Linked DNA regions of Homo sapiens. The protein of the gene in region 1 purifies or fractionates together with the protein of each later gene. This does not show direct contact. Each region holds a gene or a part of one and is shown in the gene's direction. Other genes may lie near its edges.

Region 1 (7,097 bases):
CACTGCACTCCAGTCTGGGTGACACAGTAAGACCCTGTCTCATAATAAATAAATAAATAAATAACATGGATTTTTCTTGTATCATTATCCTGTTACTTCTTCCATCAACCTGACTCAATTATTAAGGTGTCTATAATAACATATACAGACTACTTAGAAAAAAAATTAAATACTTTTTCTTTCTCTTTATGTTATTTTATTCTAAAATTTTTGTTGATATTTAATAGTTGTACATATTTGGGGGCTACATGTGGTATTTTGATACATGTATACAATGTGTCATAAAATCAGAGTAACTGGGATATACATCACTTCAAACATCTTTTCTGCTTCTTGAAAAAAAACAATTTCTCTCTTAAAATTTCCATTTTTAAAATATCTTTCAAGAGGTTGTTGTAGCTGCACATCTGCTGGTGCTGGAGATAGATATAGTATCACTCCTTCCTCATGGGATCATGTCTTTTTTGTTTTGTTTTTTTCTTCTTTGTCTGTTTTGTTTTTTTGAGACAGGGTCCCACTCTGTCACCCAGGCTGAAGTGCAGTGGCATGATCACAGCTTACTGCAGCCTCGTCTTCTTGGGCCCACCTCAGCCTCCCGAGTAGCTGAGATTATACCACCACACTGATTTTTTGTAGAGACGGGGTTTCGTCATGTTGCCCCCTGTACCCAGCTAATTTTTTTTATTTTCGTAGAGATGAGGTATTGCTGTGTTACCCAGGCTGGTCCCAAACTCCTGGGCTTAAGCGATCCTTCTGCCTTGGCCTCCCAAAGTGCTGGGAGTGAGCCAGGCGTGAGCCACCAAACCTGGCCAGGGATCATGGTTTAATGGGAGTCAAGAGAAGTAAAACAGTGCCCGAGAAAGCCTATGTATTTGACCACATATAATTGTTCTGGAATGGTGGGAGTGTCTCATCAAGAGATGAAGCTTTTCTGTCAATCTTTGTTTTACTTATTTATTATTTATTTTAGAGGTAGTTTCTCGCTCTTTCACCCAGGCTGGAGTGCAGTGGTGGGATCATAGCCCAGTGTAACGTCAAAGTCCTGGGCTCCAGTGAACCTCCTGCCTGAGCCTTCCCAGTAGCTAGGACTACAGGTGCGGGCCAACAAGCCTGAATAATTTTTTTTTTTTTTTTTGAGACAGGGTCTTGCTGTTACCCAAGCTGGAGTGCAGTGATCTGATCATGGCTTACTGTGGCCTTGACCTCCTGGGCTCAAGTGATCCTCCTGCCTCAGCCTCACACATAGCTCAGACTACAGGTATGTGCTACCACGTCTGGCTAATTTTTAAATTTTTTGCAGACCGGCTAATTTTTTTTTTTTTGTAGAGATGGGGCGTCTCCCTATGTTGCCCAGGCAGGTCTTGAACTCCTGGCTTCAATGCCCAGGCTGGTCTTGAACTCCTGGCCTCAAGCGATCCTCCCACCTCAACCTCTGAAAGCACTGGGATTAAACTGTGAGCCACTGTCCCCGGCCTATTTATTTTTTACACATTTAATACCAAGGTGCTAGTGCTTTATTCATATGACCAAATGGGCTCTCCTTGCTGCAGTTGGTACTTAACAGACATGGGGTAGCTATGGCTCTTAGGAGCTGAACCTAAGGTCCTGGCCTTGGCCTCCCAGCCTGGATACTTCTTTTTTTTTCTTCCTTGAGATAGAGTCTCGCTCTTGTCGTCCTGGCTCCAGGCTGTAGTGCAATGGCATGATCTCGGCTCACTACAACCTCTGCCTCCCGGGTTCAAGCGATTCTCCTGCTCAGCCTCCTGAGTAGCTGGGATTACAGGCGCCCGCCACCACGCCCGGCTAATTTTAGTATTTTTAATAGAGACGGGGTTTCACCATGCTGGCCAGGCTGGTCTCGAACTCCTGACCTCAGGTGATCCACCTGCCTCGGCCTCCCAAAGTGCTGGGATTACAGGGGTGAGCCACTGTGCCCAGCCCCAGCCTGGATACTTTTTTTTTTTGAGACTGAGTCTCCCTCTGTCGCCAGGCTGGAGTGCAGTGGCACATTCTTGGTTCACTGCAACCTCCGCCTCCCGGGTTCAAGGGATTTTCCTGCCTCAGCTTCCTGAGTAGCTGGGACTACAGGTGCATGCCATCATGCCTGGCTAATTTTTTGTATTTTTAGTAGACACCGGGTTTCACCGTATTAGCCAGGATGGTCTCGATCTCCTGACCTCGTGATCTGCCACCCACCTCGGCCTCCCAAAGTGCTGGGATTACAGGCATGAGCCACCGCGCCCGGCCTAAATACTTGTTATGTGCAGGAACATATCTGATTCACTCTCTACTCTGTCCCCAGTGTTGTCACAGTGCCAGGCAGCAGTTGGAGCTCTGTAAATAACGATTGCATGAACAGGATGGCCACCCAGGACTCGGGAAAATGAGTATTACTCTTTGGTGCCTATTGACAGTTCAGGGCCCCAAGGTGGGTCCCAGGGTGTCTTTGAGCAGTAAGTGTTAACTTATCTGCAGGCCTCATATAATAGATTTGCTAAGGAGCACCTACTCACAGAGCAGTGATGCCCTTGATATTGTCAGCCAATTAATTCCTTAAGTACTTCAAGTTAGGATAGGCCTGCTGATTTGATTTTATCTGTCTTTTAAGATTGATCTTTGATCATGTCCCATTCCAGCTGGACCTCCTCATCTTCCCTCCTCCATTGCTAATAGTGTGGGATCTAATTACCTCATCATCCCTTAATTTATTTATGAAAAAGGCTGAGGTTAAAGAAAAGAAAGAAGAAACTCTCTTTGGCCCTTTGGGGACCTTCTGTAAAAGCTTTCCCTTCTGTTTCTCCCTCTTTATGCACAAGAAAACCTCCCTTTTTTGTCTCTGGGAAGTTAGAATAGTTCTTGTTTACAAATTTAACTAAATTAAACTTCCCTCCCAGGGCTGGGTGGAGGCCAGCCCTGTGGGTTAAGCCTGGCCTGTCGACTGTGGGTTAAGCCTGGCCTGTCGACTCCCGCTGGAATAATCAATCTATCAAAACAACCCATTGATCCTGAGGCAAACCGCTTTCAAAACCACCACATAGTTCCTGGACGTCCTGGCTTCCTCATGACACTTGGGGAAGAGGAGTCTTTTGAAATTTTAAATTTTATTATTACACAAGTAATACATGGATACATTCGTCTTGTAAAAATTTAACTTCAAAATTCTGTGGAATAAAATGTGAAAGGCCTTTTCTTTGCATCCCATCCCACAGTTAAGAGCTTCTGATGTATTTTTCTGTTTAGGCCTTTAAACTGCACGTTCATACACGTACACCTATATAAATGTACATTTAATTTTAAAAATAACATAAATGGTATCACTACGTAGGTGCCCTTCTGCTAGTTGTTTTCCCATTTAACATGTCCTGGGTAGCCAGTCAGACCACAGATCTACGTTTTAACGGCTGTAATCATATTTCAAAAACAGGATAGAGGCATTATTCATTTATCCATTTTCCTACTGATGGGTGTTAATATAGATTTCAATTTTTTGGTATTACAAACTATGTTGCAAGCAGCAGTTCTCTGGGAATTATCCATTCAAGTATGCACTTATTTTGGGCTCCCCATGTGCTCTACTCGGGGTTCGGAGTAAACAAAACCGACCTAAAAATAATTTTGAATGATAGAAAGGGGGCATTTTCTTTATCCAAGGGGGTGAGGCAGGCTGAAGATGGGTCTCTACTCCCTCCAAGACCATGGAGGGCGTCGGGGTGTCACCCCAGCTGTGAAAAAGGGACCCAGGACCCGCAGATGCTGGCGAGGAACAGGGGTGCGGAGCATGAGTCGGCTTTGCACCACGCCCTGGGGTCTCCAGCACTGAAGCGTTCAGTACCATGCAGAGCAGCTGGGAGCGGGTCCCGCTGGGCGGGGCCGAGCTGCGCGCGACCCTCGGCGCGCTCGGGGAGGCCCAGACAGGGGTGGCCTCTCTGGCCTCCGCTCCCGCGGGCTCTATGACACCGCACTGGCTCGCGGGACGGGGCGGGGTCGGGTGAGGGGGAGGAGACAGCCCCACGCTTTGCGACTCGCGGTGACCCCTACGCGGAACTCTCTCGCGGTAATTCGAAGTACCGCGCCTGCGTGCTGCAGTAGCGCCTGGTGGCGGTGGCAGTTTGCCCGCGGGTGTGTGAAGGGAGACAGTGTGGAGGCCACAGGGTACTCGCCACGATGAGCAGCACCTTAGCTAAGATCGCGGAGATAGAAGCAGAGGTAATGGACGCAGCTGGCGGTTCACTCTTAGTCTGAGCATTCCTTCTTTGGTGGCGTCGCTCCTTCCTGTTCTCCTTTGAGCCGCGTCAGGACCGGGCCTAGATTCCGCGACTTCTCTCAGCGAGGCCCGTGTTCCGACTGCCCTCTGCCACGATTAGGAGTCCCCGACTCTCCTCAGTCAGGGCCCCCTTTCCCCTCGTCCCGCGTCTACGCTCTCGGACTCCCCTTTGCCCGGGCCCGCGTTCCGCACCCCTGCACCTTAGGCCCTTAGTCCGTTCCCCCTCCCAGTGTTTGGCTCCTGTTCTGATGTTGTTTCTTTCCGTTTTGCTCTGAGAAACACTGAATCCTGTCCCTTATTCCATCTCTGACTTGGTCAGATAGTTCAGGATCTTTCCTCATCATCCTTCGCTGCGTCCCCCTTATTCCCCCTTTTCCCAGTGTCTACCCTAATGACCCCCTGATTCAGAGTATTTGCTCCCGGTAATCGGATCTGGAAGTAAAATGACATCTGTGTGGGAGCAGTTTATTCCGCCTGGATAGTGTGTGATTCCATTGCGTGCGGCCCTGAGAGCGCTTTACAATTAGGAAAGTGGTGTCCCAGTGTTAGATGGATCCAAACAGCTGCAAATAGTAGAAAAGGAACCCGCAGACGGGTTTCAGTCTAGTCTGGGGGCACTAATTGGAATGACCTTAATCGTCTTTCCTCTTTGGGCTTTGCTTTGCTTTGTAGTGAGGGAAATGAGCTGGATGGAGGAGATAATGGACTTTTACTCTTTTAAAGCCTGTAAACTGGGTGTGCTAACATTAGTAGGACTTGGGGAAAAAAATTATCCTCTCAAAGCTGGGGGAAGCGTTCACTGCTTCTAATTTATGGCTGTGATTCCTCCCTTTTAGATGGCTCGGACTCAAAAGAACAAGGCCACAGCACACCACTTAGGGCTGCTTAAGGCTCGTCTTGCTAAGCTTCGTCGAGAACTCATTACTCCAAAGGGTGGTGGTGGTGGAGGTCCAGGAGAAGGTTTGTGTTCTTCTTCAATATATATATTTTTAGGTATAATTTTTGTCAAAATAGTACATACATGTGGTTTAAAAATAACTAAAGATGGCCCAGTGCAGTGGCTCAACGCCTGCAATCCTAGCATGCTGGGAGGCTGAGATAGGAGGATCACTTGAGGCCAGGAGTTCAAGACCAGCCTGATCAACATAGACCCCCATCTCAAAAAAAAAAAAAAGTTTTTTAAAAACAGAAAAATAACTAAAGATGTTCTACTAAAGTAGATTTATATTTTCTAAGCATGAATTCTTGAACTGTGTTTATTTTTATTCTGCCGGTTTCAGAGGCAAATGAATATTGTCTAAGTGTACTGTAGTTTTATTTATATCCTGCACTGATACAAAATAGATTTACATGCGCTGGGTGCAGTGGCTCACCCTTGTAATTCCAGCACTTTGGGAGGCTGAGGCGGGAGGATTGCTTGAGGCCAGGAGTTCGGAACCAGCAAAGCCCTGTCTCTATGGGCTTAGAAATGAGGGGTCCCCATAGGTATGAAAGAAGATGTACCAAAAAAAAAAAAAGGCTGGGTGCGGTGGCTCACGCCTGTAATCCTAGCACTTTGGGAGGCCAAGGCGTGGATCACGAGATCAGGAGTTCAAGACCAGCTTGGCCAGCATGGTGAAACCCCATCTCTACTAAAAATACAAAAATTAGCTGGGCATGGTGGCGCATGCCTGTAATCCCAGCTATTTGAGAGGCTGAGGCAGGAGAATTGCTTGAATCGGGACCCAGGAGGCAGAGGTAGCAGTGAGTGAGATTGTACCACTGCACTCCAGCCTGGGCTACAGAGCTAGACTCTGTCTCAAAAAAAAAAAAAAAAAAAAAAAGTATCCTAGCATGGTGGTGCATGTTTGTGGTCTCAGCTACTTGGGAGGCTGAGTTGGGAGGACTGCTTGAACCCAGGAGGTTGAGGCTGCAGTGAGTTGTGATGGCACCACTGCACTCCATCCTGGGTGATAGAGCGAGATCTCATCTTAAGAAAACCAAAGTAGGGCCAGGCGCGGTGGCTCACTCCTGTAATCCCAGCACTTCGGGAGGCCGAAGTGGGCAGATCACAGGTCAGGAGTTCGAGACTAGCCTGACCAACATGGTGAAACCCCGTCTCTGCTAAAAATACAAAAATTAGCTGGGCATGGTAGCACGAACCTGTAATCCCAGCTACTCAGGAGGCCGAGGCAGGAGAATCGCTTGAACCTGGGAGGTGGAAGTTGCAGTGAGCCGAGATCATGCCACTGTACCCCAGCCTGGGTGACAGAGCTAGACTCTGTCTCAAGAAAAAAAAAGAAAAAACAAAACCAAAGTAGATTTATATTGGCTTACAGAAATGTAAACCTATATCATCAACAAGATTAAAAATAAGTAAAAAAATTGATGCAAAGGGAAAACGTAGGAAAAATAAGTCGAAGCCAAGCGAGATAAGATTTAGGACTAAAAGGAATGGCGTAAGATCTGTGCACCTGGTAGAGAAGGGCCACAGATTTGACTCTGAACTTGTTGGCAGCCATTGTAAAAAGAAAAAAGAAAAAAAGAAAACCCAGTCAGTCATACAATTTACAGAATTTGAAAGACAAAAAAACAAAAACAAAACTCTTTTTAATTAATTAATTTGTTTATTTTAGTTATAAAAGGGCAGCTCCTCCATAGGCAGAGCAGGGCTACACCATAGGTAGAGTAGCTAACAACTCTATTTTTGGATCATTTTTCATACATATATTTGGGCTGTACCTTTTTTTTTTTTTTTTTTTTCGAGACAGGGTCTTGCTCTGTTGCCCAGGCTGGAGTACAGTGGTGTGATCACAGCTCACTGCAGCCTCAACCTCCTGGGCTCAAGCGATCC
Region 2 (7,876 bases), on another chromosome or scaffold:
CACATGCCTCGGCCTCCCAAAGTGTTGGGATTACAGGTGTGAGCCACCATGCCCAGCCCAAATAGGTATTTGGACCCATTTTATTAATTTGGTGAGTTTTATTTTTTGAGACAAGGTCTCGTCTCACTTTGTTGCCCAGGCTAGGGTGCAGTGATGCAATCACAGCTCACTGCAGCCTCCACCTCCCAGGCTCAAGCAATCCTTCCACCTCAGCCTCCTGAGTAGCTGGGACTACAGGAATGTGCCACCACACCTGGCTAATTTATTTATTTATTTATTTGTAGAGACAGGGTCTCACTGTGTTGCCCAGGTGGGTCTCAAATTCCCGGGCTCAAGCAATTCTCCCACCTTGGCCTCCCAAAGTGCCGGGATTACAGGTGTGAGCCATAGCACCTGGCCTAGTGTTTAAGCACATGATGTGTTTAAACTCTAGGCACAAGTTAGCCTGATCCTTGTCACTTTCTGCCTAAAGCATATTTTGTCTCTTTTTTTGGCCTCTCTTTTTTTTTGGCCACAGGTTAAATATTGCTCAATTATTTGGTTCCTCTAATTAGAGTTTACCCTTTAGAAAGATAGGATTCAACTTGTTTGGTATCTTCCTGAGGCCTAAGTATTTGAGGGATTCTCCATAAATACTTATGGATATGGCAATGGAGGGAAGAGAAGTAGGCTGTACAGAGTGGTGCAGTGAGTAAGAATAAGGCCTGGCGATATAGAACACCCTGAAAAACCCCACTCTGATAGTTAGCTGCTGCCTATGATGCTGAGTACCCACCTTACTTTCTTTTCTGAATTTCAATTGCCTTCCTTTGTAATTTGAAGACAATAACCATTCCAGGACCTAGCCTGTAGTGCCTGGCACATAGTAGGGGCTCAGTAGACATTTAAGGAAATAATAACTATCCCACTGGGTTATTATGAAGATTAAATGAGATAATGAATATCAAGTATTTCCCATAGAACCTAGCGTACACTAGTTACCCAATAAAAGTAGCTACTCCTGACTATTTGGTCATTACTCCTGACTATTTGGTCATTACTAAATGGTCATTACTGACTATTTGGTCATTACTAGTCCCCTCTTATCTGTGGTTTTGCTTCCTGATGTTTCAGTTACCTGTGGCCAACTGTGGTCAGAAAATATTACATACAATAAGATGTTTTGAGAGAGAAAGAGCACAGTCACATAAATTTTATTACTGTCTATGGTTATAATTGTTCTATTTTATTATTTATTGTTGTTTATCTCTTACTGTGCCTAATTTATATATTAAACTTTATTATAGGTAAGTATATATAGGAAAAACATAGTATATATAGAGTTTGGTACTATTTGGGGTTTCAGGCATGCACTGGGATAAGGGAGGATGACTGTATTTAGAAATATATGCATATAAAATACCATAGTTGGTTAGGAATCAAAAAAACCTGAATTCAAATCCCAATTCCATCATTTTTTTATTAAAACTTAAAAAAAATAGAGACAGGGTCTCACTGTGTTGTCCAGGCTGATCTCTAACTCCTAGGTTCAAGTGATCCTCCTGCTTTGGCCTTTCAAAGTGTTAGGATTACAGGTGTGAGTCACTATGCCCAGCCCCAGTTTCATTATTTTAATGTAGAAAAAACTACTGGATTTAGGATAAAGAGATTCAGGTATGAGACCTAGCTCTGTCTGGCTCTGCTGTGTGACTTTGGATAAGGAACTTTACTTTTCTTTTTCTTCCTTTTTCTTTTCTTTTCTTTTTTTGAGATGGAGTTTTGCTCTGTCACCTAGGATGGAGTGCAGTGGGGTGATCTCGGCTTACTGCAACCTCCGCCACCTGGGTTCAAGCAATTTTCATGCCTCAGCCTCCTGAGTAGCTTGGATTACAGGTGTGCGCCACCATGCCCAGCTAATTTTTGTATTTTTAGTACAGACAGTGTTTCGCCATGTTGGCCAGGCTGGTCTTGAACTCATGACCTCAGGTGATCTGCCTGCCTCAGCCTCCCAAAGTGCCGGGATTACAGGTTTGAGCCACTGTGCCCGGCCTTGGACTTCACTTTTCTGAACTTTGGTTTCTTCATCTGCAAAACAAGGAGAATGAGTAATCATTATGATTCCTTTTTCCAGTTCTAACAGCTTCTAAGCCTAAGATGTTGTCTCGGCCGGGCATGGTGGCTAACACTTGTAATCCCAGCACTTTGGGAAGCTGAGGTGGGCAGATCACCTGAGGTCAGGAGTTTGAGACTAGCCTGGCCATTATGGTGAAACCCCATCACTACTAAAAATACAAAAATTAGCTGGGCATGGTGGCGGGCGCCTGTAATTCCAGCTACTCAGGAGGCTGAGGCAGAAGAATTGCTTGAACCCGGGAGGCGGAGGTTGCAGTGAGCTGAGATCCCACCACTGCACTCCAGCCTGGGCGACAGAGTAAGAGTCAAAAAAAAAAAGATGTTGTTTCACACAGGTCTCTTACTTTCTCTGGCCCTAGTTTGTCTCTCTCTGGGGCAGAGCAGGCCCAGGGTAGGCAGATCTCAGTACCCCTCCACCCTCTACACAGCAGGGCCTGGCCATGCTTGTTCAACCCTGTTTCTGACTGCTGAGTAGCATGAACGAGTTTCTTGTCCACACAGTGCCCTCGTACCCTCACGAGTTCTCAGGGGTCAGGGGAGGGTACTTCTCTACCTCCAATTACAAAAAGAACAACTAACAATAATAATTATGTCCCCTATTAACAAAGTTTAGAGAGGGTCTAGAGTGAATAATCTCTTCAGGGATTACTTATCAATAAATTTGTAAAAATAAAGCTGTGCATGGTGGCACGTGCCAGTGGTCCTAGCTACTTCGAAGGCTGAGGTAGGAGGATGGCTTGAGCCCAGGAGTTTGAAGCTGCAGTGAGCCATGATCACAATGACTGCACTCCAGCCTGGGTGACAGACCTCATCTCTTCAAATAAATAAATAGTGCATTTCAGTGGCAATGTGCAATAATTTACCTTCTGATTAAGAGTACATGTAATGAACTTAGTAGATTCCTGGTTTAATTCATTGAGTAACATTACCTTCCTTGGTAGCTCTTTTGACGTACTGGCTTGTCTATAAAATTTACACAGCACCTTGACTAACATTGTCTCACTTGACCTTCACATGAGCTCAGAGGGTGGAAGCAAGTCAGGCATTATTTACCCCCATTTTTCCACCAGGAGAGGGGTCCAGGGAAGTGCGGCTAGCTGGCCAAGGCTTGGAGGCTGAATAACCCAAGAGTTGGAAGTAGACATGGCATTACCTGGCTATCCCTACCAGTACTTCTCCCCCATACTGGTTACAACAATCCTACAGCTCAGCTTTGCTGGCTGGGGCAGTTCCAAGAGGCTTTTCATTCAGTCTTCTCCTAGATCCAGCAGGTCGTGTGCTCTAATTCTTGTTTTGGAGATGGCCAACATTCCAGGCTGTTATGTTATGTGAGCACGTGGGATCACAGCCAGTCAGAAGCCAGGACTTCTCCAAGTGAAGTCATAAGCACCAAAGGGATCTTGCTAGACACGCAGATTTCTGGGTCCAGTCCCAGACCGAGCCTGATTCCTAATACTTTGGCATCTGCGTTCAAAGAAGTCTTCCCTTATCACCCAAACAAAAGTAGCCCATCTAGTCTAACTGATTACCACAGTTTAACTATTGTCTTCATAGATACTAGACAATAATTTATTACTTGTTTATTGTCTCTTTCCCCACCTTAGAATAAATTCCATGAGGATAGGGACTTTGTTAGCCTAGTTTATACCAAACCCGTTTCCTAGAACCCTGCAAGGCCCCCACAGTACGAGGTCAGTAAGTATTGAATCGAATGTACACTGAAGTTTGAAACTGCTGTCATACACTGCTCCTTCATTTTACAATAGAGAAACTGAGGCCCACGAAGCTGGAAGTCACTGCTGCAGAGATGGTAAGGGGGCAGGGCCAGGATAAAATCTCAGATCTCAGAAGTCCCAATCCAGGGACGGTTCAACTCCGCCCAAAGCAATTCTTTAGAAAAAAAACGACATCCACTTGAAAGAAAAGACATTTCCTGCCCATAAATACAAGGTTTCGCGGCGGGGAGAAGGGCCTGGCCTGGGTGAGGGCTTTAGTAATTCCGTTCCCACTTCCTAGGCGCCGGCTGCCCGCAAGGGCTAAAGACTCGCTTTCCAGGCCCGGAGTTGAACCCATCTCCGGGTAGTGTCGAGGCCAGGCCCAGCGGCGGCGAGGCGCGGAGCACAACCCACTGAGGTGCGGACGGCTCACCCAACCAAGGTCACCCGGGCGGGGACCGAAGGGGCCAGGCCCGCCGGGCACAGGGGAGGGGGCGGCGTTGGCGCGTCCTCGGGGCGGATGAGGGTCCTCCCTTCGGCCTCCTAGAAGTCAGGAATGACACTAATGGCTCCTTCCCCTGAATCTGACACCCAGCCTAAAGAGCACGAGCAGGCCCGGCAGGCCGCGTGGCCGGGTCCCATGTGCTCCACCTGAGGCCGCTCTCACGCGCTGGCCCTTTAAGATACCTCCCCTCCTCGCCCAGCCTTCTCTCCTATCCCCGTCAGCGCCCCCACCGACAACTCCCGAATTGCATCAGGCACGTGCTCGCCCCCGTCCGGTCTGAGCGTCCCTACCCCCAGCCCGGGAGGTGCTCTGAGGAATCGGAGACGAGGGGCGGGGCGAGGGGCAGGACCGCGTAGCCGTGCGCGCGCCGTCCCGCCGCCTCCTGCCCGCCCGTCGCCCAGGGCCCGGCCAGCGGCGCGCCCCCGCTGCGCCGTCCCCTCCCCTCGCCCGCCGCGTCGTGAGGCGCGCGCCCGCCCGCCGCCTGCCGCGGATCGCGTGGTCTGCTTGGCTCGCCGCGCCTCTCCCCCGTCCGTCCATATTGCTGCAGCCCCCGAGCCGGGAAGCCCGGGCCGCCCCGGGGGCGGGGGGGAGGGAGGGACGGGACTAGAAGCCTGCCGGGCTCGGGGTGGGGGCGTCTTGCGAGGAACGGGCGGGGGGGGACGCACGCCTAGGAGGCCTGGACTGCAGAGTGGGGGGCCTTCCTCCCCCCCCGCCCCGCTAGTGGGCCTCGGATTTACGGCGGCTGCATCTAACTGGGAGGGGGCCGCACCTCGCGTGAACCCCGACCCTTCTCTGCAGGGACTGGGGCCCAGCGCCCCGGAGGAAGGCGTCGCGGGCGCTCTGCTAGCCAAGTTCGAGGCGGGGGAGGCAGCCTCGGGCGCGCCCGGCTTCTCCGGGGGGGCGGGCGCGCAGATGGCCACTCAGGTGGAGCCGCTGCTGCCTGGGGGCGCCACGCTCTTGCAGGCCGAAGAGCACGGGGGGCTGGTGAGGAAGAAGCCGCCGCCGGCGCCCGAGGGCAAGGGCGAGCCCGGGCCAAACGACGTCCGCGGGGGGGAGCCGGACGGCAGCGCTCGGAGACCCCGGCCGCCCTGCGCCAAGCCGCACAAGGAGGGCACCGGGCAGCAGGAGCGCGAGAGCCCGCGGCCGCTGCAGCTGCCCGGCGCCGAAGGCCCGGCCATCAGCGACGGGGAGGAGGGCGGCGGCGAGCCAGGCGCTGGCGGAGGAGCTGCCGGAGCCGCGGGCGCGGGGCGCCGGGACTTCGTGGAAGCCCCCCCGCCCAAGGTGAACCCGTGGACTAAGAACGCATTGCCGCCGGTCCTGACCACCGTGAACGGACAGTCCCCCCCAGGTGGGTCTCCCTCCTTGCCCTCCTGGGTCCGGGGGCCTCTTCCGGGGACATGGGAGTCCCCTCCCCCAGCACCTCCAGGGCCCCGGGGTCTGCTACCGGTCATGGTGACTCGGGACTTTTTAAAATTGCCTCCTGGTTGATCCTGGTCGCCGCGCCCTCCCCCCCACCGTACACTCAGGGACCTGCCCCTGCCCGAGGGCCCGGCCTCCGGGAGGCTACGGCCACCGCCTGGGCCGCAGCGGTTAGTGGGCAACGGTGTGGTTCGGGCCTACCTCGTCGGCAGAGGGTGGGCGCTGGTTTCAGTGAAACGATCCCCACCGCATGCTGGTGTAAGAGACGGTTTCTGGTTTGAACCTTCCTCTGGAAGCCCCTCTTCCCACCCCGCCCGGCGCTCCCCGTTTTGGTAGCGTTGCGAGCGTCCCCATGTTGTAAATGTTTAATGAGCATATGTCACGGGCAACCCAGTGCCCGGCGCGGAGTACATGCTGGCCGCACGGATGCGGGGATTAAAAGTTAACAAGTTTTGTTCTCGGGGAGATGAAATTGGGCTTTAGAATCGCCATTTGGAGACGGGTTGAGGGGTCAGTTGTGGGGAGAAGAAACCCATCGTGTCATCGAATTCGGTGGTTTCCCTCCCCGATCCCGGGCACCTTCCGCCTTAAGAAGGAGCCCGATGGCGAGTGTGCTGGGGGAGCCAGTTAGGAGGTTGGCGGAAAATGTGAGGCGGGTGAGGGGCCTGCGGCGACTTGAGGGGCGTGTGGCGGCGGGGGAGGGAGTGGCCGGCCTGGGCGGGCGGGTGACAGTTGGGCGCCATGCGCCGCGCCGGCGGCCCGCGGGCCGCTCGGCCTCGGCGTTCGGTGCGGGCCGCGGCGCTGGGGGTGGCAGGAGGGTGCGGGCCCGCGGCGCGGCCCGAGTGTGCGTGTGCGCGGCGCGGGTGTGTGCGCGTCCCCCCTTCCCAGCATTCCTCTGCAGCCGGGACAACGTGGTGCCTCCCCGCGCGGGGAGCGGCATGTGACTGCCGACCGGCGCTCCGCGAGTCCTCCCTCTCCCTCCTCCGCGTTTTGGTCCTTTTGGACCGTGCCCCTTTCCGGGGGGAGGTAAGGGGTGCAGGAAATCCCAGCAGAGCCGTGTCAGCGTGGGGGGAGAGGCGGTGCAGAATATGGAGTCTGCTCTTGCATTGCCTTTGCCGAGAATAGATCGTCGGCTTGGGTGGGGGGGGCGCGCCCACTCTCCTCTCTCGGCCGGCGTATAGGGCGGGTCTCCATTCTTTGGTTTTGGGTCCGTTTGTGGTGGGTCGGTTTTAAAATTGTCTTGCAGTTGGAATGATGGCCTCTGGTCGTAGCCCTGGTGCTTTTAAAAAACTCACCTGCCGTAGCTGGTTGAGGCTAACTGGTTTAAACCATCAAAAATAAAGGGGGAGCTTAATGTCTTCACCGTCAAAGGAGTAGAAGCACTGCTAGTCCTAGGGAAGCCAGAATAGCCAGTCCTGAAAACAGCATGTTGCAATTTTTATTTCTTTTCAGGTTGCTTCATTTGGAGGAGGGGACATTTGGGGTTTACTAACAGTCCTTCATACTGTGTTCTCTTCCTTCCCCCCTGCTCCCCTTCCCCCCTGCTCCCCTTCCCCCCTGCTCCCCTTCCCCCCTGCTCCCCTTCCCCCCTGCTCCCCTTCCCCCCTCCTCCCCTTCCCCCTTCCTCCCCTTCCCCCCTCCTCCCCTTCCCCCCTTTCCCTTCCAGAGCCCTTTTATGCAAAAGACAGTGCTGAAACCTCCGTTTTCTTTCAGTCCCTCCTATCCACCCACAGAGTGAAGGAAAACAACTTTAAAACACTCTTTGGTCCTTCTCCCCTCTTTAAACTCAAAAGGGTATAATCATCCCCGGGAGAGAGCACTCCTTTTAAATGGGGCTACTCATCCTGGCTTGGCTAATGGTGAACCTACCTTGTGGGTTTTAAATCAACCGTGACATCAGGTGGTATTGGGTGCCTGAGCTGGCATTTTGTGTAAGTCCAGGAGCCCTTGATAGTGTGCGTCACTGGGGTTATTGATCGTGGGAAGAAGACAGCTTGGCTGGCATCTCACCTTTTCCTCTGAGTGGAGAAGCTGACTTGCTTTAAGTGCCCAAAGCAAAATTCTGAGTAAGGGTAGATTTGCTCTGTTATTGTTTTTTGGAATCTTAAGGCAAGAGAGTGTCTAC
Region 3 (7,337 bases), on another chromosome or scaffold:
TGGGGCCCTAGAAGGTCCTGTGAGTTTAGAGCTCTCTACAGGCAGGCTGTAGAGCCCATCATCCCTGCCTGGTGCCTCTCCCAGCCCCTCCCGGCTGCCTCTGGGCCGCTTCAGGGTCATTGTGATCCGCCCCTCACCCCTGGGCATCTGAGTAGCAGTGGGCACTGAGGCCTGGGGACTAAGGGTGGGGCTATTGTGCCCTGGATGCCCTGGCCGCAGCCACCTGGGGCACTGGGACTCTGACCAGGGCAGCCAGGCCTACCCTTTCCAGATCTGGGAGGCTTAGGCTGGGTGGCTCTGGAAGTAGAACTTCCACCCCAAGACCAGGCAGTCAGAATACAATGGACCTAGAAATGAACAGACCCTGCGGGGCACGGTGTCTCACGCCTGTAATCCCAGCACTTTGGGAGGCCGAGGCGGGCGGATCACCTGAGGTCAGAAGTTCAATACCAGCCTGGCCAACATGGTGAAACCTCGTCTCTACAAAAAATACCAAAATTTGCCATGCATGGTGTTGTGCACCTATAATCCCAGCTACTTGGGAGGCTGAGACAGGAGAATCGCTTGACCCTGGGAGGCGGAGGTTGCAGTGAGCTGAGATCATGCCACTGCACTCCAGCCTGGGTGACAAAGCGAGACTCCATCTCAAAAATAATAATAATAATAATCCAAGGTCTGGGTGCTAGGTGTGCTTCTTGCTATTGAGATGTCATTTCTTTCAGGCAGTCTCAGCTGACAAAGAAATGTGTGTGTATACTATGAAACACACACATATCTATAAATATTTCTATAGGTAACCATCTGTACTTATATTAAGCTAAACATGAGCTCATGCTGACATCTCCAACTCTAATCCGTTACACAGATCATTTGAGACTCTGTCTCACAAAAAAAAAAGAGGCCAGGTTCCAGTGGCTCATACCTGTAATCCTAACACTTTGGGAGACCGAGGCAGGTGGATTGCCTGAGCTCAGGAGTTCGCAATCAGCCTGGGCCACATGGTGAAACCCCGTCTCTACTAAAATACAAAAAAATTAGCCGGGCGTGACAGCGTGTGCCTGTAGTCCCAGCTACTTGGGGGGCTGAGGTAGGAGAATTGCTTGAACCCGGGAGGCGGAGGTTGCAGTGAGCCGAGATCACGCCACTGCACTCCAGCCTGGGCAACAGAGTGAGACTCCATCTCCATAAAAAAAAAAAGAAAGAAAGAGCCGGGCACGGTGGCTCACGCCTGTAATCCCAGCACTTTGAGAGGACAAGGCGGGTGGATCATGAGGTCAGGAGATCGAGACCATCCTGGCTAACACGGTGAAACCCTGTCTCTACTAAAAATACAAAAAATTAGCTGGTTGTGGTGACGGGTACCTGTAATCCCAGCTACGCGGGAGGCTGAGGCAGGAGAATGGCGTGAACCCAGGAGGCGGAGCTTGCAGTGAGCGGAGATCGCGCCACTGCACTCCAGCCTGGGCGACAGAGCAAGATTCCATCTCAAAAAAAAAAAAAGAAGGAAGGAAGGAAGGAAGGAAGAAAAGAAATTAACAGACCCACTTTCAAGTCCATGGTCTGCTGTTTTGCTGTGTGATCCTGGAGAAGTGTCTTCTTTCTCAGGACTCCCTGGGCCTTATCTCTGAGTCTTGGCTGGGAGAGGGCCGAGAGGAAGCTCATAGTATTGTGAAGCTGGGGTGGGAGACAGAGGTCATTTACATGAGTATTTCACTGGCGTGGCATAGTTTCATAATTTGAAAATGAAGAAACGACTTTGTAATTCAAATAACAGAGTGACTCACTAGAGAACGCGTCGCCAAAGATATATTCTATTTTCTGTCAATGCTTCTCACCAGGGATGGAGGGACATACTTTCCTGGAGAGCTACAATATTGAGTGGGGGAGGGAGATATTTTTGTATTTATTTAAAGGGTATGTGTCTTTTTTAATGGCTGCGAAACACCAGATTAACTAGACGGTTTCTTTTTTTCTTTTCTTTTCTTTTTTTTTTTTTTGGAGACGGAGTCGCGATCTCAGCTCACTGCAAGCTCCGCATCCTGGGTTCACCCCATTCTCCTGCCTCAGCCTCCCGAGTAGCTGGGATTACAGGTGCCCACCACCACGCCCGGCTAATTTTTTTGTATTTTTAGTAGAGACGGGGTTTCACCGTGTTAGCCAGGATGGTCTCGATCTCCTGCCCTTGTGATCCACCTGCCTCGGCCTCCCAAAGTGCTGAGATTACAGGCGTGAGCCACTGCGCCTGGCCTAACTAGATGGTTTCTAAGGAGCCCTCCAGCCCTTGCACTCTGCAAATATTTATCAAGGAACTACTATGTGCTAGGCTTGGGAATTCAGAGATGCCAGAGGCTTTGAGGTCAGGGAGCCGGCCAGTCCTGGGAAGGCCTTGGAGCGTGGCTGTGGGGAAGGGGCTTGCTCTTCTGTTGACAGGAAATAAGACAGGGCTGGATTTTTAGGCATACAGAGAGCTTGGATCAGAGCTGCCCCCTGGCGGAGGATTCCGGACACCCCCACCGATTGAAATTGCCCAGGATCAATCCCTTTGCTTAAAGACACAGAAAATGAAGCTTGGGAGAGGGGCTCAGACCAGGGGTAGCAGTTGTGACCTAGAATAGTCTAGAGGGTATGCCAAATAAGATGCACATACACACATCCTGCGGACTCAATGCAGAAGGGGCTTTTTAGCATCCCCTTTCTACCGTAGCTTTCAACACATTTAGAGCAAACACACTTTAAGCACCTTCTGTGTGCGTCGCCCAGAGGAAGGAACACCAGGATAGTATTATTATTATTTTATTTTTGAGACAGAGTTTCGTTCTTGTCACCCAGGCTGGAAAGCAATGGCGCGATCTAGGCTCATTGCAACTTCTGCCTCCTAGGTTCAGGCTATTCTCCTGCCTCAGCCTCAGAGTAGCTGGGACTACAGGCATGCACCACCATCCCTGGCTAATTTTGTATTTTTAGTAGAGACGGGGTTTTGCCATGTTGGCCAGGCTGGTCTCAAATTCCTGACCTCAGGTGATCCGCCTGCCTTGGCCTCCCAAAATGCTGGGATTAGAGTCGTGCACCACCGTGCCCTGCCAACACAAGGATATTATTAATAGTATAGGAAAAATGAACTTAAGATGGATATTGTCATTATAACAGCTTCCATTTCCTGAGAACCCACTGCAGGTGCTGAGCTGAAGGTCTGACGTGCAATGTCCCACAAGTTTAACCCTCTCAGAGCATCAGAAGTTGAGTAATTATTACGTTGCTCAACTTCCTCTTCTGACAGGAGACTGAAGCTCGGAAATGTTAACAGGCTCTACCCACCTGCAAGCTCCCGTTTCCATCACCGCTGCCTCGGAGATAGCTCCAGAATTTCTTTGCATGGGAGGAGCCTAGGGAAGGGCCACGCTTTTGGAATGGAAACGTCATGGGCTTGTTTTGCTCATTTCAGTGGGAATCCCATGGCACTGCCGAGAGTATTTCTTTTTATTTTATTTATTTTGGGGGGTCGGTATTATTTTAAGATGCTAATGGAGATGGGTGGATTTGAGGACCAATGGCTTTTTTTTCCCTTTTTACTCAAAGCCCGCACAACACACTCGTTTTTAGAAGTCCAGCCTGCAGCCTCCAAACGAACTGTTGTACGTGCTGGGGACGGGGAGAGGGCGACGCTGCGGCTCTTTTCCGTTCGGGAGGTCCTTCTAGATTCCCAAAAGTCAATTTAGTCAAGTTTTGAGCTGTAACCTGTGTTGGGCGCGGTGGCTCACGCATGTAATCCCAGCAGTCTGGAAGGCCGAGGTGGAAGCCTCGCTTGAGGCCAGGAGTTCAAGATCAGCCTGAGCAACAGGGTGAGACCCCGTCTCTAATTTTTTTTTTTTAAAGAAGTCAAATTAGGCCAGGTGCGGTGGCTCACGCCTATAATCCCAACACTTCGGAAGGCAGAGGCGGGCGGATCACTTGAAGTCAGGAGTTCGAGACCAGCCTGGCCAACATGGTGAAAACCCGTCTCTACTAAAAATACAAAAATTAGCTGGGTGTGGTAGCTCACGCCTGTAGTCCCAGGTACTCTGGAGGCTGACGCAGGAGAATCGCTGGAACCTGGGAGGCAGAGGTTGCGGTGAGCCGAGATCGCGCCACTGCACTCCAGCCTGCTTGACAGAGCAAGATTCTATCTCAAAAAAAAAAAAAAAAAAATTTAAATTATTTTTCAAAAGAAGTTAAGTTAAATCCGGAGCCCGCGCGGGGGAGGGGCGAGCTGAGCGAGGGGGTGGAGCCAGCCATGGGCCCGCCCCTAAACGCCCGGAAGTGACGTTGGCGGACAAAGGCAGCGCGCGCCGCGAGCTGTCGCGTCTGGTCGTGGTCTGGCGGAGCTGCGGTTGGCTTGTGGCGTCTCCGCCGCCGCCGCCCTCCCTTCCTCTTCCCCATCTTCTTCTCTCGGTCCCGGGAGCCCCCGCCCGGAGTGAGTAGCGCGAGGCGGTGCGAAGGGTAGGCAGCCGCTGGGAGAGGGGAGGCTGCGACCCCTAACTGTTTCGGCGCCCTGAGGTCCCGGGTCCCCGGCTCGTCACGTGACCCGGCGCGTGCGCGCGGGCCGGCACAGGCCTCACGTGCGCGTCCCCAAGAGGTCTACGGGCCGGACCTGGGCAGGGACTACGGAGCAGTCCATGGGTCGGGGTACAGGAGGAAAGTCAAGGCACTCAAAGCCCAGGCAGGGCACTCCCCCACCCCGGTCCCCAGACCGCAGCAAATCCCTTTCTCTGAGCCTGTTTCCCTTCCGAGAAACAGGGATATGGAGAGCGCCCACTTGGAGGATGGATGGGAGGAATCGGTAAAATCGGTAAAATGCCCAGTTCAGAGCCTGGCACAGTTAAGTGCCCGCTGCACAGAAGTTGCTGTCGTATTTAACCTTGGGTGCCACCCGAGCGCCAGCCCGACACAGGTGCAGCTCAAAAAAGACAGCCCGAGAGCCCTTGCGGCCAAGGTCAGCCTGTCTGCAGGGAGGCTGCCATATCGAAAAGCCCAGACTTTGCTGCGCACCAACTGTGTGATCTCTCCCTCTGGACTTTGGTTTCTCCTCTGTACTATAAGTGATTGCCACAACTGGTGTCAGAGGCCCTGACAGCGGGGAGGGACAGTGTAACCGGTGGTTGTGGTGTGTAGAATGATTGCCCAGTGAGATGGGATGAGCCTCTGGGAGGAACCAGGGCTGGTATAAGGAGCCTGGATTCCCTCCTTAATTCTGTTCTCGGCTTCCTGTTTGTATGTTTAAAGACACGTCACTTCCTTTAGTGTGCTGGTTTTTCTCTATGTAAACTGAGGACTGTGCGGGGGTTGGAAGGATGCATGGAGCGTTTTGGTGGAGGCCGGAAGCCCTAGGATCACAAGGATGGCATCTAAAAAATCTCGGTGGGGGTTCTGTGCTTATAGGCAGAGGAAGCTCACTCCCCACTCTGGCTGATTTGCAGAGCTGTTTGAGTCTGCTGGCTTGGCCGCCCAGCATACCAGTAACAGTCCCCTAGGTGTGTCCAATACAGCTTCTGTGGCATTCTAAGGCAGTTTTCCCATTTGATCCTCATAGTGGGCAGAGTTGACAAGAATCTCATTTGACAGAGATTTCTAAGCTCAAGAGAGAATATGTGCCCGGCACTGTGCAAAGCACTTTAAGCTTTTCATATGCACTTTTAATCACAGCCTTTCTGTAAAGTCGGTATTACTGTTCCATTTTATAGGTGAACTGAGGAATGGTGAGGTTTAATGTCTTGTCTGTGCTTACACAGCAGGTGTGCAGAGCCAAGATTCAGATCTGGTTCATCTGGCTCCATCAGAGCCTTTGTTAGTTTTTAAATGTATCCCCTGTTTTGTCTTCTTCCCTCCCTTTCTCACTTCCTTCTTTTTCTTAGAGCACTCTGCCGTTTGCATGTGGCCTGCTGCTGTCCACAAAGATCCAGGGAGGATGGACTCTGTCCACTAGGCTGCTAGAGGGTGGAGGTAACTTTTAGGCAGGCTTTTCCGTAGAGACTTACGTGAGGAGGATGAGATGACTGCAAAAGTCTGCCGGTGACAGTTTCAGCACTGTTTTCTTCCATGGGTCGTGGGAGAAGAGATGCAGTACCTTGGGTCTGAACACCTTGGCGGGGAGGAGGAGGCAGCAGCCAGGTGACTGTGAAGGATGTAGGATCACATTTACTGGCTGAGCAGCCATTTACCAGGCATGAGGGGTTTGTCTTCCTCTCTGAGCTAGCCTAGAGTGCACACAAAGCCCGTGTGCTCCTGGCCCCCTCCCAGGCCCTTCAGCCACATACGGCATCTGTGCTCTGGAGCAGAGTGTAGCAGGACCACCTGCTGTTGGCTGACTGACCTTGCTGTTCCCTCAGACTCTTAGGGACCTCCTCCTGCCCCACTCCAATCTGGACACCACGAGGCAAAATGTAGCCAGGACCCCAGGAATCCCGTTTATTAATGAATCAGCTGTTAGGGCAGATGTCAAAGTCAGGCTTGCTATTTCCCGGCCAGGATGTGCCTCCCCTGGCTTGTTCCCAGAATTTGCGTGTAAGTGGAATTCTTGTAAATTAGATTATTCAGGGGACCCTGACATTTAAAGGAATCATGTTACAAGGCTTTTGGTAAAGCACAGAATTATATTGTCGGTAGCAGCCTTCAGGCCTTCAGTATTTACCAGTTCTGAATGGTTGGACTTTTGTCTGTAGGATTTTCTTAGAGTGGAAAATGGCTATAGCTGCACAAAGCCCATTCTTGCATTATTTGGCAACCAGTTAGTCAATGCCCACCTGGTATCAGGCACTGGGCTAATGGTGTACAAGGTAATGTCTCTACCCCCAGGAAGCTGCATGCTGGGAGAGGAGACGGATGGAGTCCAGCCTGGTATGTGTTTGCCCCCAGATTTATTCTGTTCATTTGATCAGAGGTGAACTTTCTGTTGAATATTTGTGTTTCATGGGATGCAAGAGAAGCATGGTGATAAATCTCAAATGTTGCCACTGCTCTCAGGAGCTCCCCGGCCAGGCGAGAGAGAGAACTGAATACAAAACCTTCAGTTTGCCAAGTTGGGCGGTGAGAGGGAGACAGGCTTGCTCTCGCCATGGTCCAGTCTGAATGGGAGTTGTGCCAGCATGGTGTGGAAGAGTAGTAGTTCGTTTTTTAACCTTTGTCTTTAATTTTCCCAGCCACCAAGTGTTTTTTGTTTTTTGAGACAGGGTCTCGCTCTGTTGTCCAGGCTGGACTCAAACTCCTGGGCTCAAGCAGTCTTCCCACCTCAGCCTCCCAAAGGGCTCAGGTTATAGGTTATAGGTTATAGAGTAGTTTTGAATGCCGTCCTCTCTTGAGTGACT
Region 4 (7,020 bases), on another chromosome or scaffold:
GTTCCACCCTGGGTGACAGAGTGAGACTCCGTCTCAAAAAAAAAAAAAAAAAAAAAAAAATTTTTTTTTAAAGTCATTCTAGCAGGTAGTCAGTAGTATCTTGTTGTGGTTTTAATTTATATATCTCCATGAAGACTAGCAATACTGAGCTTCTTTTCGTGTTTTTATTTTACTATTTTCTTTGATGAAATATAGGTTTATATCTTGCCAGTTTTTTTGAGTGTCTTTTTATTATTGAGTTTTGGAGGTTCTATATATATTCTGAATTCAAGTTTTTTCTCAGATAAGTATTTTGCAGATATTTTCTCTTAAGTCTGTGGCTTGTCGTTTGATTTTAAGTGACTTTCAAAAAGCAGAAGTATTGAATTTTGGTGAGGTGTAGTTTGTTAAATTTTTTATAGTTAATAATTTTTGTGTATGCTGAGATACATTTGGCTAACCTAAAGTCATTTTCCTTAGAAATTTTAGTTTTAGCTCTTACATTTAGGTTTATAATTCATTTCGAGTTAGTTTTCATATATACTGTGACATAAGGGATGTTTTTGTCTTTTTTTTTTTTTTTTTTTTGGATTTGGATGTCTAATTGTGCCTGCACTGTTTGTTGAAGAGACAGTCCTTTATTTTTTGAGACAGAGTTTTGCTCTTGTCGCCCAGGCTGGGATTACAGGCTTGAGCCACCATGCCTGGCTGAGACAGTCCTTTATTAAATAACCTTTGCACCTCCCCTCTTCACATTTTGAGAACTTCCATGCTTTCTGATACAACAAAATGTTTTAGCCTCACTTTGAACTTCCCCTGCTCTAGCTTTAGCCCCAGTGGAAACATAAATTTCTAATAGAAATGGTCTTGGCCATTCCTCCAAGAAGATCCGGTTCCTTCTAATTGGGAGTGGTGTGTAGAGACAGGACAGGGTGCTAGCATGCTTGTTCCTGCTGGAGAGCCATGGCTCTCGGTTAGGAGATAGAGCTAGGAAATATGTATATTTTGAAATAACAAGTTTATTTTATTTGATTTTAGAGAAAAGAACTCACTTGGTACCCGGGCTGTAGTGCAGTGGCATGATCTCACCTCACTGCAACCTCGACCTCCTGAGCTCAAGTGATCCTGCTGTCTCAGCCTCCCAAGTAGCTGGGGCTACAGGCACACGCCACCACACACTGGGCTAATTTTTGTATTTTTTTTTTTTCCTCTGAGACAGAGTTTCGCTCTTGTTGCCCAGGCTGGAGTGCAATGGCGTGATCTCAGCTTACCGCAACCTCTGCCTCCTGGGTTCAAGCGATTCTCCTGCCTCAGCCTCCCGAGTAGCTGGGATTATGGGCATGCGCTACCACGCCCAGGTAATTTTGTATTTTTAGTAGAGATGGGGTTTCTCCATGTTGGTCAGGCTGGTCTCAAACTCCTGGCCTCAGGTGATCCGCCTGCCTCGGCCTCCCAAAGTGCTGGGATTACAGGCGTGAGCCACCGAGCCCAGCCAATTTTTGTATTTTTTTTGTAGAGACGGGGTTTTGCCATGTTGCCCAGGCTGGTCTCAAACTCCTGGACTGAAGCCATCCACCCGCCTTGGCCTTCTCAAAGTGCTGGGATTACAAGAGTGAGCCAATGTGCCTGGCCCCTTTTTTAGTTTTTTTTGTTTTTTAGACAAAGTCTTGCTCTGTCATCCGGGCTGGAATGCAATGGCGCGATCTCAGCTCACTGCAACCTCCGCCTCTGGGGTTCAAGCATTTCTCCTGTGTTAGCCTCTTAAGTAACTGGGATTACAGTCATGTGTCACCACACTCAGCTAATTTTTGTATTTTTAGTAGAGACAGGGTTTCACCCTGTTGGCCAAGCTGGTCTCAAACTCCTGACCTCAGGTGATCCACCCGCCTCGGCCTACCACAGTGTTGGTATTACAGGCGTGAGCCACTGCACCTGGCCCCCTTTTTTACTTTTTAAATGTCTTTTGATGAGCAGTTTATTTTTTATTTTATTCATTTATTTATTTTTGAGATGGTGTTTCGCTCTTGTTGTCCAGGCTGGAGTGCAGTGGTGCCATCTCAGCTCACTGCAACCTCCGTCTCCTGGGTTCAAGCAATTCTCCTGTCTCAGCCTCCTAAGTAGCTGGGATTACAGGTGCCCGCCACCACGCCCAGCTAATTTTTTATATTTTTAGTAGAGACGGGGTTTCACTATGTTGGCCAGGCTGATCTCGAACTCCTGACCTCGTGATCTGCCCACCTCGGCCTCCCAAAGTGCTGGGATTACAGGCGTGAGCCACCGCGCCCGGCCAGTGGTTTTTAATTTTGAGGAATTTCTTTTTTCTTTATGGTGGATATCTTTTGTGTTCAACTCTTTGCCAGCCTTACAGTCTTGAGGCTTTCTCCTGTTATAAAGTCTTTGTAATTTTAGTTTAGATCACATTTAAGTGATCCTAGGTCTAATTTTTGTTGTGGTATGAGTTAGAGATCATGGTTTGATTTTTTTTTCTTCCCCCCACCCCGCTCCATGCAGATACCTAGTTAGTTGCTCTGGTACTATTTTTTTAAGAGATTTTTAATTTGTTTTGGTGTGTTTGCCAAAAATCGAGTGACCTTATATGTGCAGGTCTTTTTCGTGCTGTTCTGTTGATCTATTTATCCTTACACAAAACCATATCCTAGTTGTTGTGACTTTATAGGAAGTTTTAAAATCTGGTAGTGTAAGTCTTCTATTTTTCTTTTTGAGTGTCTTGGCTAATATCGGTTAGATTTTTAAGTTTTTTTGTTTTTTTTTTGTTTTTTTTTTTTTGCTTTTTGAGACGAGGTTTTGCTCTGTTGCCCAGGCTGGGGTGCAGTTGTGTGATCATAGCTCCCTGTAGCCTTGATCTCCTGGGCTTAAGTGATCCTCCTGTTTTAGCCTCCCACATAGCTAGGACTACATACAGGGGCACACTACCACACCTGGCTAATTTTGTTTTTATTTTTGTAGAGTCAAGGTCTTGCTGTATTGGCCAGGCTGGTCTTGAACTTCTGAGCTCAAGTGATCCTCCCACCCTGGCCTCCCAGAGCGTTGGGATTACAGGCATGAGCCACCCTGCCCAGCCTGATTTTCTATCTGTGTTATTGTAATCACTTTCTTGATAATGTCCATGATACACAAAAGTTTTAAAGTTTGATTAAGTGTGACTTTTTTTTTTCCCTCTTGTTGATTGTGCTTTTAGTTTCATATCTTAAAAACCAATTGCCAAACCCAAAGTCATGAAGACTCGCCTGTTTTTGCTTCTGAGAGTTGTGCATGTTAGCGCCTCTGTGTAGGTCTTTGGTCCATTTGGAGATTGTAATCACTTTAATATGCAGCTAACTTTCTGTTCATGTTTAATTTTAGATTCTTTCCCCATCTTTGTTGACTTAGTTTTATTTCTTTAATATGTAAAACAGTAAATGCTTCCAGAAGTCAAAACTATCATTCCCGTCTCATCCCGTCTGTCTACCCTAATCCCTCACACCTGTTGTAGGTAACTAATTTCATTGCTTGCTTTTTGAGACGGAGTCCCACTCTGTCACCCAGGCTGGAGTGGCGCAATCTCAGCTCACTGCAAGCTCCGCCTCCCAGGTTCACGCCATTCTCCTGCTTCAGCCTCCCGAGTAGCTGGGACTACAGGCGCCTGCCACCACGCCCGGCTAATTTTTTTTGTATTTTTAGTAGAGACGGGGTTTCACCATGTTAGCCAGGATGGTCTCGATCTCCTGACCTCGTGATCCACCTGCCTCGGCCTCCCAAAGTGCTGGGATTACAGGCGTGAGCCACCGCGCCTGGCCCATTGCTTGCTTTTTTTTTTTTTTTTTTTTCCTTTGAGACAGGGTCTTACTCTATCGCTTAGGCTGGAGTGCAGTTTTGTGATCTTGGATCACTGCAACCTCCGTCTCTCAGGTTCAAGGGGTTTTTGTGCCTCAGCCTCCCAAGTAGCTGGGATTACAGGTGTGCACCACCACCCCTAGCTAATTTTTGTATTTTTAGTAGAGATGGGGGTTTCACCATGTTGGCCAGGCTGGTCTTGAACTCCTGACCTCAAGTGATCCACCCGCTTTGGTCTCCCAAATTGCTGGGATTACAGGTGTGAGCCACCATGTCCAGCCCATTGATTTTTTTTATCCTTCGTTTTTTTTTTTTTTTTTTTTTTTTTTGCAAAAATGAGCTTATAAATGTGTGTCTGTTTATATATGTGTAGATATTTGTATAAAATCCTATTTTTCTTAAACTAAAGCTACCATACCATATACTCTTTTGTGGGTTTTTTTTTTTTTTTTTTTTACTTAATGTGTGCGGGGAATCCCTCTTTATCAGTGCTTAAGAGATTTGTCTCGTTCTCTTTTGTGGCCACATAGCAACCAGTATTTAGTAGGCCTAGTCCTGGCTGGAGGCTCAGAGCAGATACTAAACTTGAGCATTTGTACTGCATTTATTTCTGGACTTTGCTGGGCTAGCTTCCTTTTTGCCAGTTGCAGTGGACCACACTAAACTCAGGACAGCCTGTGAGCCAGGGGCATGGGAGTAAAAAGGTCTCCCTATTTCATGCCTGACTGTTTGGGACTCACCAGACTCAAGAGCATAAACCAGTTTGAGAAGTAAGAAGAAAGGCGAGAAAGCATTTGAAATGATCCCCGCTTCCTTTCATTTAGTAGGTCTTGTCCTTGGTTCCCCTTCCCTGTGTCTGTGTGAAGTGTGCCAGCCAGTGTGCCTTGGAGCTTTTAATAAGTGTCTGTCCGCTTTCACTCAGTCTTTCCCTCTGAAACAGGTGGCCCGGGAGAGTGGCCCACCCCACATGAAGAACTTTGTGACCAAGGTTTCGGTTGGGGAGTTTGTGGGGGAAGGTGAAGGGAAAAGCAAGAAGATTTCAAAGAAAAATGCCGCCATAGCTGTTCTTGAGGAGCTGAAGAAGTTACCGCCCCTGCCTGCAGTTGAACGAGTAAAGCCTAGAATCAAAAAGAAAACAAAACCCATAGTCAAGGTGAGAACTTTTCTGAACACAGAAGGTGTTTTCATTACTTATAGATGGGTGGGGGGTTTAGAAGGCTGGTCGCTGTCCCCAAGGTGAAAGGGGATGAGACCAACGTGCCACACCCCAGGCCTGCCAGACCCCTTAGAGGTGCTGCAAGAGCCACCTGTTAGGTAAGATAAGGACATTGTGTCAGTTCAGTAGAGGTACCCGCAGACGGGCACACACATCTGTGCAGGAGGGCGCTCATCACAGCCCTGGCGATCACAGTGGGGTATTGGGCAGGAACGCCATGCCGGTCTGTGGGGCGCGTGGTGAAATAACAGTGCCTGTGTCTCAGTGACCATGTTGCTGTTCTGAAGGTGGAGGAGATTTGTGCCAGGCAGGAGGCCCATAGTGGGAGGGTAGGAGTGAGACATTTTGCTGTGTGCCTTTTCTTTTGGATTTTTGAGCCACACTAATGGATCTATCAAAGCATTATATTGACCCCTTCCCCAACCCCAGAAAGGGGACATAATTCCATGGGGAACTTTGTGATTTTCAGTATATGTAGTTTCATGCTGTATCAAGATCCAAATTTTTCTTACATAAAAGCATACTATGTATACCTTTTGTTTCCCTTTTTTGCTTAATATAGCCTGGAAGTCACTTCTGATCAGCAGAGTGAGGGTTCCTTGGCACAAAAGGTGGCCTCAAGGAAGTAACTGGGATTCTGAGGTTCTTCTTGCCATGTGGCATCAGCTTGAGCTTTTTTAAAAAAGTGGTTCCTGGATTTTGAGTTCTTTTCAAGAAAATTGGGAACCCATCATAGCTCAGACTTTTGGGGAGTTGTAGGAATAGTGTTTTATGTTTTTTCTGCCCATTTACTGTCATATGTTGAAATATGTTAAAAAACAGCCGTCGCAGTCATAGTGACGCTTCGTTATAGTGAAATGTTGATGTTGGTTTGCTAAGACCTTAAAATCACCTAGAACAATCATAAAAAAAATAAAGCATCTTTTCATTGTTAAAATGTTAAATTAAAAAAAATCGAATTCTGAGCCATTAGGTCAACCCAAAATCTCTTATCTCCTCTCATATCCTGATCTCTGAGTTGACCAAGTTCATGCGGTGAATAACATTACAGAGTTTCTGCCTTGTTTGTTCCTCAGCCACAGACAAGCCCAGAATATGGCCAGGGGATCAATCCGATTAGCCGACTGGCCCAGATCCAGCAGGCAAAAAAGGAGAAGGAGCCAGAGTACACGCTCCTCACAGAGCGAGGCCTCCCGCGCCGCAGGGAGTTTGTGATGCAGGTGGGTCCGCATGGATGATGGGCGCCCCTTCCTCTGACCACGTCCAGCCTTGGGGGCTGATGGCGGTTCAAGGTCTGGACACCTTCCTGAGGAGGCTGGATCCTGTGGGCCATGTTCTGCCAGCGACTGTGATCCTTATTTATTTATTTATTTATTTATTTATTTATTTATTTTTGAGATGGAGTCTCACTCTGTCGCCCAGGCTGGAGTGCAGTGGTGCTGTCTCAGCTCACTACAACCTCCGACTCCCTGATTGAAGCGATTCTCCTGCCTCAGCCTCCCGAGTAGCTGGGATTACAGGCACGTGCCACCATGCCCAGCTAATTTTTTGTATTTTTAGCAGAGACGGAGTTTCGCCATGTTGGCCAGGATGGTTTTGATCTCCTGACCTTGTGATCCTCCCACCTCAGCCTCCCAAAGTGCTGGGATTACAGGCGTGAGCCACCTCGCCCAGCCAACTGTGATCCTTATTAAGACCTTGTGGCTTGCAATAATTTGATAGCTTAAACATACCACAGAAATCTGTAAAGGCTACATATCAAAGATTAAGTTGTTTATCTTAATGCTTAAAAAAATGAATGTAATGTCTGCACACCAGCACTACTGCTGGGTGCACTGGTGGGAATGTGGGTGTGTTGCACTGAAATTTGGAAGAAAGAGTCCTGGGGTGGTGGGTGCTGGGAGAAGTTTTTCTTCATTACATCTCCTTGAAGGTTTATGACATTGCTCTTTACCAAAGGTAAATTTTGTAAGTAGTATCAAGAGATCTGT

The links.
Region 2: the proteins of DRG1 (region 1) and LARP1 purify together in Homo sapiens (affinity purification with mass spectrometry; 2 studies listed by BioGRID and IntAct, with this or other methods). This does not show direct contact.
Region 3: the proteins of DRG1 (region 1) and NTMT1 purify together in Homo sapiens (affinity purification with mass spectrometry; 5 studies listed by BioGRID and IntAct, with this or other methods). This does not show direct contact.
Region 4: the proteins of DRG1 (region 1) and STAU1 purify together in Homo sapiens (affinity purification with mass spectrometry; 2 studies listed by BioGRID and IntAct, with this or other methods). This does not show direct contact.

The regions. Positions count from the first base shown.
Region 1 is NC_000022.11:31,395,520-31,402,616, forward strand, and holds the start of DRG1 (developmentally-regulated GTP-binding protein 1), read left to right. Parts: upstream 1-4,084; 5' UTR 4,085-4,164; coding exon 4,165-4,206; intron 4,207-5,100; coding exon 5,101-5,224; intron 5,225-7,097. UniProt on the Homo sapiens protein: Catalyzes the conversion of GTP to GDP through hydrolysis of the gamma-phosphate bond in GTP. Appears to have an intrinsic GTPase activity that is stimulated by ZC3H15/DFRP1 binding likely by increasing the affinity for the potassium ions.
Region 2 is NC_000005.10:154,750,514-154,758,389, forward strand, and holds the start of LARP1 (la-related protein 1), read left to right. Parts: upstream 1-4,863; 5' UTR 4,864-5,244; coding exon 5,245-5,680; exon of another isoform or gene 5,681-6,009; intron 6,010-6,640; exon of another isoform or gene 6,641-6,777; intron 6,778-7,876. UniProt on the Homo sapiens protein: RNA-binding protein that regulates the translation of specific target mRNA species downstream of the mTORC1 complex, in function of growth signals and nutrient availability.
Region 3 is NC_000009.12:129,621,846-129,629,182, forward strand, and holds the start of NTMT1 (N-terminal Xaa-Pro-Lys N-methyltransferase 1), read left to right. Parts: upstream 1-4,317; 5' UTR 4,318-4,450; exon of another isoform or gene 4,451-6,870; intron 6,871-7,337. UniProt on the Homo sapiens protein: Distributive alpha-N-methyltransferase that methylates the N-terminus of target proteins containing the N-terminal motif [Ala/Gly/Pro/Ser]-Pro-Lys when the initiator Met is cleaved.
Region 4 is NC_000020.11:49,122,321-49,129,340, reverse strand, and holds part of STAU1 (double-stranded RNA-binding protein Staufen homolog 1), read left to right. Parts: intron 1-4,735; coding exon of another isoform or gene 4,736-4,753; coding exon 4,754-4,966; intron 4,967-6,105; coding exon 6,106-6,249; intron 6,250-7,020. UniProt on the Homo sapiens protein: Binds double-stranded RNA (regardless of the sequence) and tubulin.